2 linked regions of the Homo sapiens genome follow. The protein of the gene in region 1 interacts with the protein of each later gene in a pairwise test. Each region holds a gene or a part of one and is shown in the gene's direction. Other genes may lie near its edges. The genes, in order: RAET1G and KLRC4-KLRK1.

Region 1 (4,045 bases):
CATGATAATTAACTCTTCTTTATCCAACTGGGTTCCATCCTCACTCCGTCCCACCATGCACCAGTATCCTCAGGTGCAGCTCCCACACCCTGTCCCACCTCCCACAGTCCACGTGGGCTACTGCTGAAGATCCTCTGTCATCCAGGCCCTTCCTCCTCTAGCACTCCTGGCACCTCTCTAGCAAGGTCCTGTGTTGACCGATGTGGACAGAGGGGCAGTGGGACATGTCTGGGGACATGTGGTTTCTCAGCAGGCAGGGACCTCCTCCTCCTCTTTGCCCTCATGGAAGTGGGGAGCACTCGCCTTAATCTTGTGGACACCACAGTTCTGGAGGAGGCACTCCTTGCTGGGCCAGCCCAGCCCTCCAGAGGCTTCCTCTTATTGTCACAGTGTGGAGGAGGGGTATCTAGGGGTCTTTTCCTCCCCACCCACCCCTCACCTGCCTTTCTCCACAGACCCTCACTCTCTTTGCTATGACATCACCGTCATCCCTAAGTTCAGACCTGGACCACGGTGGTGTGCGGTTCAAGGCCAGGTGGATGAAAAGACTTTTCTTCACTATGACTGTGGCAGCAAGACAGTCACACCCGTCAGTCCCCTGGGGAAGAAACTAAATGTCACAACGGCCTGGAAAGCACAGAACCCAGTACTGAGAGAGGTGGTGGACATACTTACAGAGCAACTGCTTGACATTCAGCTGGAGAATTACATACCCAAGGGTAAGTTTCAGATGGCCCAGGACAGCAGGGAGCAGATACAGTGGTAGGTTAGAGGCATTTATAGTTTTCATGTAAAAATACAAATAGGAAGGTCATCTCACCCCGCAAGACGTCTAGAGGCAAGGCCAGGATGTGGCAGAGCAAGTAAGACCAGGAAATTGCAAGTGGAAGAGGATGGGGGCTCAATATCTGTCAAGGCCAGAGCTGATCTCTCTTTGATGGGGGCAGAACCCCTCACCCTGCAGGCCAGGATGTCTTGTGAGCAGAAAGCCGAAGGACACGGCAGTGGATCTTGGCAGCTCAGTTTCGATGGACAGATCTTCCTCCTCTTTGACTCAGAAAACAGAATGTGGACAACGGTTCATCCTGGAGCCAGAAAGATGAAAGAAAAGTGGGAGAATGACAAGGATATGACCATGTCCTTCCATTACATCTCAATGGGAGACTGCACAGGATGGCTTGAGGACTTCTTGATGGGCATGGACAGCACCCTGGAGCCAAGTGCAGGAGGTAACAGGAGAAAAAGAAATGGGGATCTCCAATGAGATCAGAAATGGGGATCTCAAGAAACTAATTCTTGAGTTCAGCTTCAATCATCCCAGTGTACACGTTTATGTTAAAATGACCTCCTCGTGGGGTGCTCCTCCTGGGGGTGCTGGCGTGCCTGTGCTCTCCCACCCTCCTCTTCCTTCTCCCTCCTGACTCCTCTTCCTCACTGCACTTGCTTCTGTTCCCCACACTGTGGATTTCTCACCAGCCTCGAAACTGCAGGTGTCACTATTTTCAGGCCTTTCTCCTTAGTGTTCCCTCTTGAGAATCACTTTTCCTTTCCTCCTCTGGTCTGTTTCTGGAAATCCATCAAAACCTCCTCCAAGGCCAGCCTCGTGACCCTCCCCTCCCGCACCCTGGAGCATCACCTCCTCTTCCGCCACAGCAGGAGGGTGGGCTTTGCTGTCACCTTGCTTCCCTCAGCAGCTCTGTGAGCTCCCTGAGGCCAAGGGACACCCCCTCTCCCTTCCTACCCCAGGAACTCTCCCAGGGGCTGCCCCATAGCAGAGGGGACAAAACCTCTGCCTTCCAGGATGACCTGGGTCAGCAGGAGCTGAGGAGGCATCTCCTCAGATTTGGGGCCTGGACAAGGGTTGTCACTCTTGTGCTTCCATTTCAGCACCACCCACCATGTCCTCAGGCACAGCCCAACCCAGGGCCACGGCCACCACCCTCATCCTTTGCTGCCTCCTCATCATGTGTCTCCTCATATGCTCCAGGCACAGTCTGACCCAAAGCCATGGCCACCACCCTCAGTCCCTGCAGCCTCCTCCTCATCCTCCCCTGCTTCATCCTACCTGGCTGCTGAGGAGAGTCCTTTGGAGTGACAGGTATGGGGGCAGAATTGGGAGTGGAGCAAAGGGCAGGTGGGTGAGGAGGGAGGACAGGGATGGAGAATTCCCAGAGTCCCACTCCCTATGGCTGGGACCTTCTCATCCTAACATGAGACAGGTGAATGAGACCTTGTGTTGCTTGTTGGAAATGACCTGGGCAGCTCTGCCCTGAGTTCTGATGGATTCTCACCATCAAAGGCCAGAGGGAAAGGCGCAGTGGTGCCATACCAAGGCTCAGGGTCTGTTGAGCTTGAGAGGGTTTAGCAAGTTCAGGCCTGATTCAGAGCAGGTTTCTGTTCAGGAAGGGTGTGTGGCCTGCAGGCAGCAGGAATTCAGACATGGGCAGTCCTCTTAATTGGGTTAGGTGCATCAGGGTAGCTTTACATGAGGTATGACAAGGGAAGGGGGATTCCATCTCTGAGGCTAAGAGAGAGATATGTGTGGGCGGCAAGCCACCCAGGTGCCAAGGCAAGAGACTGAAGGCACAAGCTGTTCCAGTATAATAAAGAAAATACTTAAAATAAGAATAGTTGTATTAGACGTAGAATACAGACATGATTATCTATGAATATTATCAATCATTAGTCTGTAGTGTTACTCTTTTTTCCAATGTTATAATAATCTCTGTTCCACAATTATAACCCAGGAAAAACCAGGCCATGCAGAGACAGGAGCTGAAGGGACACGGTGAGAAGTGACCAGAAGACAAGAGTGTGAGCCCTCTGTCATGCCCAGACAGGGCCAGTAGTGGGCTCCTCAGTCTAGCAGTAGCGCCAGTGCCTGGGAAGGCACTTGTTACTTAGCAGACCGGGAAAAGGAGTTTCCCTTTCCCCGGGGGAGTTAGAGAAGACTCTGCTCCACCACCTCTTGTGGAAGGCCTGACATCAGTCAAGCCTGCCCGCAGCCATCCGGAGGCCTAAACGTCTCCCTGTGATGCTGTGCTTCAGGGTCACGCTCCTGGTCCACTTTCATGTTCCGCCCTGTACACCTGGCTCCGCCTTCTAGATAGCGGTAGCAGAATTAGTGAAAGTATTGAAGTCCGAGAAATACATAGAAGAAACAATGACGTAAGCTGTCCTCTCTCTCTCCGCCTCAGCTACCAAATAGCGAAGCGCCCCTTGTCTGGTGGACACGTGACTCGCGTGACTTTACCTATCATTGGAGACGACTCACACTCCTTACCCTGCCCTCTTGCCTTGTATACAATAAATAACGGCGCAGCCAGGTATTCGGAGCCACTACAGGTCTCCATATCTTGATGGTTCCCTGGGCCCAGCTGTCTTTTCTTCCGTCTCTTTGTCTTGTGTCTTTATTTCTACGATCTCTCATCTCCGCACACGAAGAGAAAAACCCACAGGCCCTGTAGGGCTGGTCCCTACAACTATGAGTGTAATCCCAGAAGGAGGGGGCTGGGAGAGCCTTGGTACACCTAATTGAAAAGGAGGGGGCGCAGGGCTGCCTTCCCACAGAAAGTGGCTTGGGTTCCAGGAATTAAGGTGGAAGGCGAAGAGTAGAGGCTGCACATGAAAAAAATTTTTAAAAAGTCAGTCCCATGGACCCATGGGGTTCGAGTCCAGACCTTGAGGCAGCTCCCTTGCCATCACCTTCCTGCACACCCCAGATCCTGAGCCCGCTCATGGCCCTGCCAGGAGCAGAGTGGACTCAGACACGGGGGACCTGAGCTGCTGCTTAAGTCCATGGGCACCACTGGGCTGGACCAGGAATGAATAAGGTGGAACAGGGACAGTCACCTTCAGAGCTATGGGTGCTGATTGCAGTGTGAGGAGAGGCTGAGGAAGAAGGGGAAGGAGGAATATTTGCCTGCAGGCCCACCCAATGCCAAGGACACAGGAATACAGAGCCCTCTCTTTGGATGGGCTCCCCCTACCCCTTGCCATGTTTTAGGCCTTCTCATCAGATGGTAGAGAGGGCCTTGAGTGAGGG
Region 2 (7,938 bases), on another chromosome or scaffold:
TTTCTTTTTTTTTCTTTTTTTATTATTATTATACTTTAAGTTTTAGGGTACATGTGCACAATGTGCAGGTTTGTTACATATGTATACATGTGCCATGTTGGTGTGCTGCACCCATTAACTCGTCATTTAGCATTAGGTATATCTCCTAATGCTATCCCTCCCCCCTCCCCCCACCCCACAACAGTCCCCTGTGTGTGATGTTCCCCTGCCTGTGTCCTGCAAATAATCACACTTTTATTTTTTCTATCCATGTGCCACAACTTATTTTTTCTTCATTTATTTTCTCTGGCTAGTACTTTATATCCAGAGTTGAATAGAAGGTACAATCAAATTTTACATGTATCATATGTATCATTTTCTGGTTTTGGCAAAAAATAATTCAACATATTATTCATATTTACAAAGTTTGGTGTTTTTTTCATCATATCTTTCTTATATTGAAGTGGTTTTATAATATTCCTTTTTTCAATAGATGTTATCAATTGTAACATTTTTATTTTTTATTACTTAGAATGATATATGTTTTCTTTATACAACATTTTATAAAATAATTTTATTTTTGTCAAATGTTAAACTAGGCTTTGTTTCCGAAACAAATCCATGCTGATCATTGTATATTGCCCCTTATAAAATATCAGTGCACATACTACTATATCTAGGGTAAGATATGTTTCTTCATCTATGTTCACAAGGATATTTGACCACGTTTTTATTTGTAGCTATGTACTTGAAAAAGTTTTGGTCTCAAGGCTATCTTGGGAAGATTTTCTGTTTCTCTATAACCTGGAAGCATTTGTTAAGAGTACTGCTTTAGCCATAAAAAAGGATGAGTTCATGTCCTCTGCAGGGACATGGATGAAGCTGGAAACCATCATTCTCAGCAAACTATCACAAGGACAGAAAACCAAACACCGCATGTTCTCACTCATAGGTGGGAATTGAACAATGAGAACACATGGACACAGGGAGGAGAACATCACACACCGGGGCCTGTCGGGGGGTGGGGGGTTGGGGGAGGGATAGCATTAGGAGAAATACCTAATGTAAATGATGAGTTGATGGGTGCAGCACACCAACATGGCACATCTATGCCTATGTAACAAACCTGCACGTTGTGCACATATACCCTAGAACTTAAAATATAATAATAATAATAAAGAGTACCGCTTTATTTTTAAATGTTATCATTCACTAGTTATGCCATCTGAGTTTGCAGGCTATTTTTGTAGAAAAGTTTATGGCTAAACTGAATTTCTTCAATACATGTAGGGTTTACTCAGATTTCTATTTGAGGTACTATATTTTGGTAATGAGCATTTCCCAGGAATTTTCTATTTCATATGGACATTAAAATGCATTGATAATATAGTTTTATTGCCTGTTTAATAACTGTAAAGACCATAATGGTATTGCCATGTTTAAACTGGGAATAAAATATCTGTGCCTTTTCAAAATCTTCCCTTAGTAGTCCTTTGTGACCATTCATCTTGATAATTTCTTTGGCCCATATGTTATTTTGACATATATTACTGAATTAAAAACCATATAAGGTTCTCAGATTTTTGTTTATTGACTTCTGTTGTAGGTAAAATATAGTTAGAACATTTTCTATTAAACTGGAAATGTTCTTCATCCCTTTATAAATGTGGCTCATGTGGTGAGGTACTGGTTTTAAATGTTATTTATTTTTATTAATTAATGTTAAATTTGAATAGCTACATTTCAACTGTCTCCTAGCCAAGCTTGGCTAGCGGTACTACATTGAAATTGAGTATCCGTGTGAGTATATGTGTGTGAATGCATTCATATGAGTGATGGTTACTTGTCTAGTTTAAATCTTTCTATAGGCTCACTGGCCTGTCTTGTATTAAGCATCAAGAGAAGAGTCTTTAAAAATCCCATTTATGATTGTTTACTTGTTCACTTTATTCAACTATATGTTGAACTTGTATCATTAGGTATATGCAATGATAAAAAATATATTACTAATGGTTTGGAAAATTAATTTATCATTATGAAGTATATTTCCCCAATTTCAGTAAATTTCATCTCGGCTCACTGCAGCCTCGACCTCACCTCCAAGGCTCAAGCGATCCTCCCACCTCAGCAACCAGAGTAGCTGGCTACAGGCCAATACCATCATGCTGGCTAATTTTCGTATTTTTTTGTAGAGACGGGGTTTCATCATGTTGACCAGGCTGGTCTTGAACTCCTGAGCTCAAGAAATCAACACATCTTGGCCTCCCAAGTTGCTGGGATTACTGACACAAGCCACCGCCCCTGAGTGCTCATGTACCATTTAGCTTGTGTTTTAAAAATCTACTTTTTCTGCCCTCCCTATTTTTAACTAGATGATGTTTTAAAAATTACTTTTCCCTCTCTATATAGTTTGATTTAAGCATTAGTCATTTACAACAAATATTAATATTAAAATGCAGACCGTTATGATTGGAAAATAAATCAATGAACAATATAATGAGTGGTTTTTATATATTTCAATCTCTGGCGTGGTGATATAGTACAATATTTTTTAATTATTTATTCTTCCCAGAGACATATATTTCAATGAGAGTTATCTGATTAATTTATTTTTAAAAAACTGAATGAGAGAATTTTAAGAACTATCAAGAAAGTAAGTTGGGAATTTAACTTTGAGAATTGATGTCAATTACAATGAAGTGGAAATGTATTTTCTCAGAATAATTAGTGACAAATACATTAAATTCCTATTGGTAAGATTATTATTTTAAAAATTTATCGTCATATTAGCAGTGATATTATAGGGGTATATGATAAAGAAGTACGTAATCCCAAGTTTTAGCCACCCTGTGTAAATGTAGAAGTTAAACATGTAAGAGACTCTGAAAAAGGTATAAGATTTTAGTGTTTGTGATTGAGATGGAAACAACTGCATGGGTAGTAGTCTTTGTTCTCCCCAAATCTTGTTTACTATAAAAATAATTTCTAAAAGTCACTTGAAAATGGACAAACTAAATGACACCCTAGCAGCTCAGTCTCTTATATTCTGAGGTGTATGATGAGATAAACTGATTCAAAATGGCCCTAGTGTGAAAACTTCCTGTTCAAATCCGAAGTGATACATTGATGAGGAATCTGCTTTTTGCACTCTTGCCTCACTCTGAGCTTTCACAGGGCAGTCTGTGAAGATCAGAGATATCTGTTTTTTGTTTTTTGTTTTTTTCTGAGACAGAGTCTCGCTCTGTCGCCCAGGCTGGAGTGCAGTGGCTCCCGATCTCAGCTCACTGCAAGCTACGCCTCCCGGGTTCAACCGTTCTCCTGCCTCAGCCTCCCAAGCAGCTACAGGCGCCCGCCACCACACCCGGCTAAGTTTTTGTATTTTTAGTAGAGACGGGGTTTCACCGGATCACAGATGTCTTTTGTGTCGTTAAGAGGTAACCTGACCTCTCCACTAAGGGGCGTGTGACTTTCTGATGACAGAAGGTATGTGTTGCTAGTCTCCTGTTTCTCTACTAGCTCATCTCCTTTAGTAGAAAATTGTAAATATTAAATGTGATGCAACAAGGTAAAGTTAATACAGAATAAAATCAAAGTAGAACTGTCTGTACATGAATAATTCAGGGTGAAAAGCAACCCAAAATATAATATATGTTTGAGGATTTCTTAAAGTATTTACATTATTGCCTGTGGAGAATTAGTCAAGCACATGCATACATCATAATAGGTTTGTTAATCAATATAATTTAGAGTGAAACCGATAAATATCACGACAATGAAGAATTAATTTGAAATTTTATAATCATTATAGATGTAATAATACTTTATATTTAGCCCAGACTTTAAAAATGCATTTTTAATGGATACATCAAATTGTGAATGTCAAACATAATTTCTCATACACATACTTATATTTAATTGAAGCAGATTTTATTTTTTTAAGAATGTAATAATGAAGTAGTTTCCATAAAATGCAAATCTAAACTTAATTATAAATAATAGGACGACCTAAAAAAAATTGAGCCAAACAAACATTGCAAAAAAGATGTACTACACTGACATGAGACTCCTACCTCATTAGTTATTTTACACACTCAGTATGAATTAGAAATAATAAAATGGCAATTGTGTTAAAAATAATTAAAATATCTAATATGTATTGAGGACTAATGTGTGCCAGGTTGTATGTTAAGGGTTTTATATACATTATACTTCATAAATTATTTTCCCCAATCTAGATTAGTAAACTGGTGTTGTAGACACCAAGTAACTTTGTAAAGGTCATGCATTATGAGTTTCAAAGCTGTAATTAATTTTAGGTCTCACTGGCTACAGAGCTCATTGACTAGATTATTAAATTATATTTTCTGATTTATTACAATTACTTACACAACCAAAGTGACCCTCGCTGCCTTTTAAAACAACCACAGGGTCTTTCTGAAAGTTTGAACTTAAAGTGTTCTTTCATAGATGGTCCAAACTTATATTTATCATTTTCAGTTTTCCTATTTTAGTCATTAAATCAATTACCAATCAATTCTGTAAAATAAAGAGTTAAATCTTTTTCAGTAGTATTTAGTTTATGCATAAGTTAATGTAATGTTTTACAAGGTATAAAATATTTCTTTAAAATTTTAACAATTTTTCTGTTTTCCTCAATCATTCAGAATAAAAAACATTTGCCAAGACCTCATGCCCTTTTAGTAAACGAATGTAAGTCACTAACTTAATGTATTTTAGTATTAAAAGTTGTTCTATATGCCAACAAATTATTCCTCCATCTTTAGCGCTCAATCCTTACATTAATGAATTTTAAAATTGTCATACAATTAGTGCATTTTATTTTCAAATTTCAATTTTAGTTTTTTACACAGGTATTCTATTGGTGATAAAATATTTCTGTAGAATCTGATTTTAAATTAATAAAGATATTTATATTCAGTTACTTCTTAGTTTTCACAAATGTATTGTTTTTTATTGTTCCCATTAATAATATTATGTCAAATATAGAAGGCCTTTTAAAAAGTGACCTATTGTTTAAAGAGATTTCAGTTTAAAACTTTAGGAAATTAGTACCAGACTTTTATATTGGTCAACAGCAAAATGAACATTACTACTCAGCCTCCAACACATGCAGTTTGCCTATACCAGGGATCCTGTCAAAATATACACCACTTATAGCTTCTTAAGTGCAGTTATCATAGAGCACAGTCCCTGACATCACACAGCTGCAGAGATGAATAAACAAAGAGGAACCTACTCAGAAGTGAGTCTGGCCCAGGACCCAAAGAGGCAGCAAAGGAAACTTAAGGGCAATAAAATCTCCATTTCAGGAACCAAACAGGAAATATTCCAAGTAGAATTAAACCTTCAAAATGCTTCTTCGGATCATCAAGGGAATGACAAGACATATCACTGCAAAGGTAAAACATTAAATAGATCTTCAATATTATTGTTCTAGGATGTGCAGTTGAATGCAGAAAGGTGGGGAAAGATTAGGGAATATTTTGCACTTGTGAGAATCAGAGGTCAAAGTCAGGATCTAATATTCTAATATGAAATCTGAAGCCTGATTTTATTCAGGCATTGTTCAATTGTAATTTGTGATTAACAACTCATGGAGCATTATATTTACTGATAATGAAATGGTATATTCTGAGAGAAAGATTACTAGAGTAGATGTAGATTTAGAGGACAGAGTTTATCATTATGTTTTCCTGTGCACGTGAGTTCTCTTGTACGTAAACCTTCTCATCAACTCTCTATCTCCCCTCTCTCAGTGCCTCTTTCTCTCCCTGCAGGTTTACTGCCACCTCCAGAGAAGCTCACTGCTGAGGTCCTAGGAATCATTTGCATTGTCCTGATGGCCACTGTGTTAAAAACAATAGTTCTTATTCCTTGTAAGCATATTCTTGAAAGATTATAAGGGAACTTTTCACTATAATGATTGGAAGCGCCTTGAAACATTTCATAATAATGAGGATTAGAATTCTCTGTTTAATGTATATCTCTGAACCCCAAGATAATATGCTGCTTCTGAACTTTTCAAATTTATAAATAACAGAATAATTGTAGAAAACATTTATTTTTTTGTGTGTACTAAATATATATGTATATATGATACACACACAGAGAGATGTATTCTGATTTCATGACTCAAAGACATGTTTTAAGAGAAAAAATATTTAGAAAAACAAATTAATTTTTGAAAGTGGTTAGATCAAATACTATAAGAGATGGTGAAGTTTTATGCTAATGGCTTTAAAAATATTTGTTTTAAAGATCTCATTATTTTTATAGAAAAGTCATTTTTATTTCAGATTGTTCCAATTTAAAATAATTTTAAATTTTGTATTTCAAAGTAAGCAACTGAATTTATTATAATTTGTCTAGATATTAATTTTGTAAGAATCACTTTAATTTTTCTAGGTATTGGAGTACTGGAGCAGAACAATTTTTCCCTGAATAGAAGAATGCAGAAAGGTACATTATGATTGTCAATGTTCTGATGTTAGTACAGTTTATATTTTGTCTCTAAAGGGATGCAAAATGATAATAAAATGTTTTGGGAAAATAAACTATAACAATGAGCCATAAATGTTTATAAAATAAAGATTATATGAGGGCATGTCCTTTTCTCCAATAATAAGTAGAAATGCTCAGTTAAAATCATTATACCCTCTTGTTGCATTTAATTAACTGAAATTTCCTACTACTATAAGATGATAAGAGATAAATAATTTTACTATACTTAAAAAGCAGTTTTGTTCAGTGATGTTTAAGATGTGTAGGGTGGATTTTTGTTGGCGGGCTTGTTTTGTATGGGAACACAATTAAGGGATGAGAGGTGGACCTTTTATTGTGCATGTGCGTATGAGTGACTCGTTATTTTAAAATATATATTTAACAACTTATGAGGATGCAGATATTGTGTACCTGTATGTTTATAGCTTTGCAAATATATAAAATAATTTTCATTTGTAAACATATTGTTTTGCATAGTAATTCATATTTTTATTTAGCACGTCATTGTGGCCATTGTCCTGAGGAGTGGATTACATATTCCAACAGTTGTTATTACATTGGTAAGGAAAGAAGAACTTGGGAAGAAAGAGTTTGCTGGCCTGTGCTTCGAAGAACTCTGATCTGCTTTCTATAGATAATGAGGAAGAAATGGTAAGACGTAAATGTTTCAACACTTTACTAAAAGCTTATTTCTGTCAATATCATATTTGTAGAAATCATCCATATGTTTATACATATATTTACTTCATATATTTTTAAGTCTGTGTAGTATTCAACTGACTTCATAATATTTTTATATTCATATACTGTTAATGCACATTTGGTTATTTCCAGTTTTGCTTTTCATGGAAACCCATGCTTCTATAAATGTTTTTATCACAAAATAAATATAAAGAAAACTAAGCATGTCATGGTCATGCATATTGATCACAAAGTGAATGGATTCATGATACAGGGCAGATCATGAAATAGAAGTTTCCAGCCCCAGCAGTCCTGCTCCTGTGTATGCCTTCCTCACTTTTCCTGCCTCCTCTCCAAACCTTTGTATTGATGTTTAATGTGATAAATAAGCTTTGCCTGTTCCAGAATTTATGTCAAGGGAATCATACAATGTGTATTTTCATGTGTGTCTTCTTTTACTCCTATATGATATTTGTGCAATAATGCAGTTAGCTGTTGTTTGTTGCTTTTCATTGCTGCATGATGTGCATAGAACATTTACAATCTGTTCAGTCCTGTGTCTCTGGATGGGGAAGTGAGTCTCGTGCCCTCAGGAACAAAGAGGAACCTGGATGGGCACGTGTAGTCATGCGGTTCCTTTGCTGATCCCTCTCACCGCACCTACCCTGATGTCTTTTGGTTTGGGAGGAGAAGCACTTCCTCTAGCTCCTAACTGGTAGCAGGCCTCCTGGTAGGTCATCCTTGCCAGTGGTACCA

The links.
Region 2: the proteins of RAET1G (region 1) and KLRC4-KLRK1 interact in binary tests that used the Homo sapiens proteins (3 or more experiments, as listed by UniProt).

Annotation. Positions count from the first base shown.
Region 1 is NC_000006.12:149,916,227-149,920,271, reverse strand, and holds the end of RAET1G (UL-16 binding protein 5 preproprotein), read left to right. Parts: intron 1-455; coding exon 456-719; intron 720-763; exon of another isoform or gene 764-947; coding exon 948-1,229; intron 1,230-1,887; coding exon 1,888-2,098; coding exon of another isoform or gene 2,099-2,273; exon of another isoform or gene 2,274-2,747; coding exon of another isoform or gene 2,748-2,799; exon of another isoform or gene 2,800-3,197; coding exon 3,198-3,360; 3' UTR 3,361-3,394; downstream 3,395-4,045.
Region 2 is NC_000012.12:10,406,850-10,414,787, reverse strand, and holds the start of KLRC4-KLRK1 (NKG2-D type II integral membrane protein), read left to right. Parts: upstream 1-4,641; 5' UTR 4,642-4,689; intron 4,690-5,030; exon of another isoform or gene 5,031-5,212; coding exon of another isoform or gene 5,213-5,399; intron 5,400-5,777; coding exon of another isoform or gene 5,778-5,876; intron 5,877-6,405; coding exon of another isoform or gene 6,406-6,459; intron 6,460-6,998; coding exon of another isoform or gene 6,999-7,135; 5' UTR 7,136-7,152; exon of another isoform or gene 7,153-7,404; intron 7,405-7,938. Other genes in the region: KLRC4 (NKG2-F type II integral membrane protein), read left to right, coding at 5,213-5,399, 5,778-5,876, 6,406-6,459, 6,999-7,135.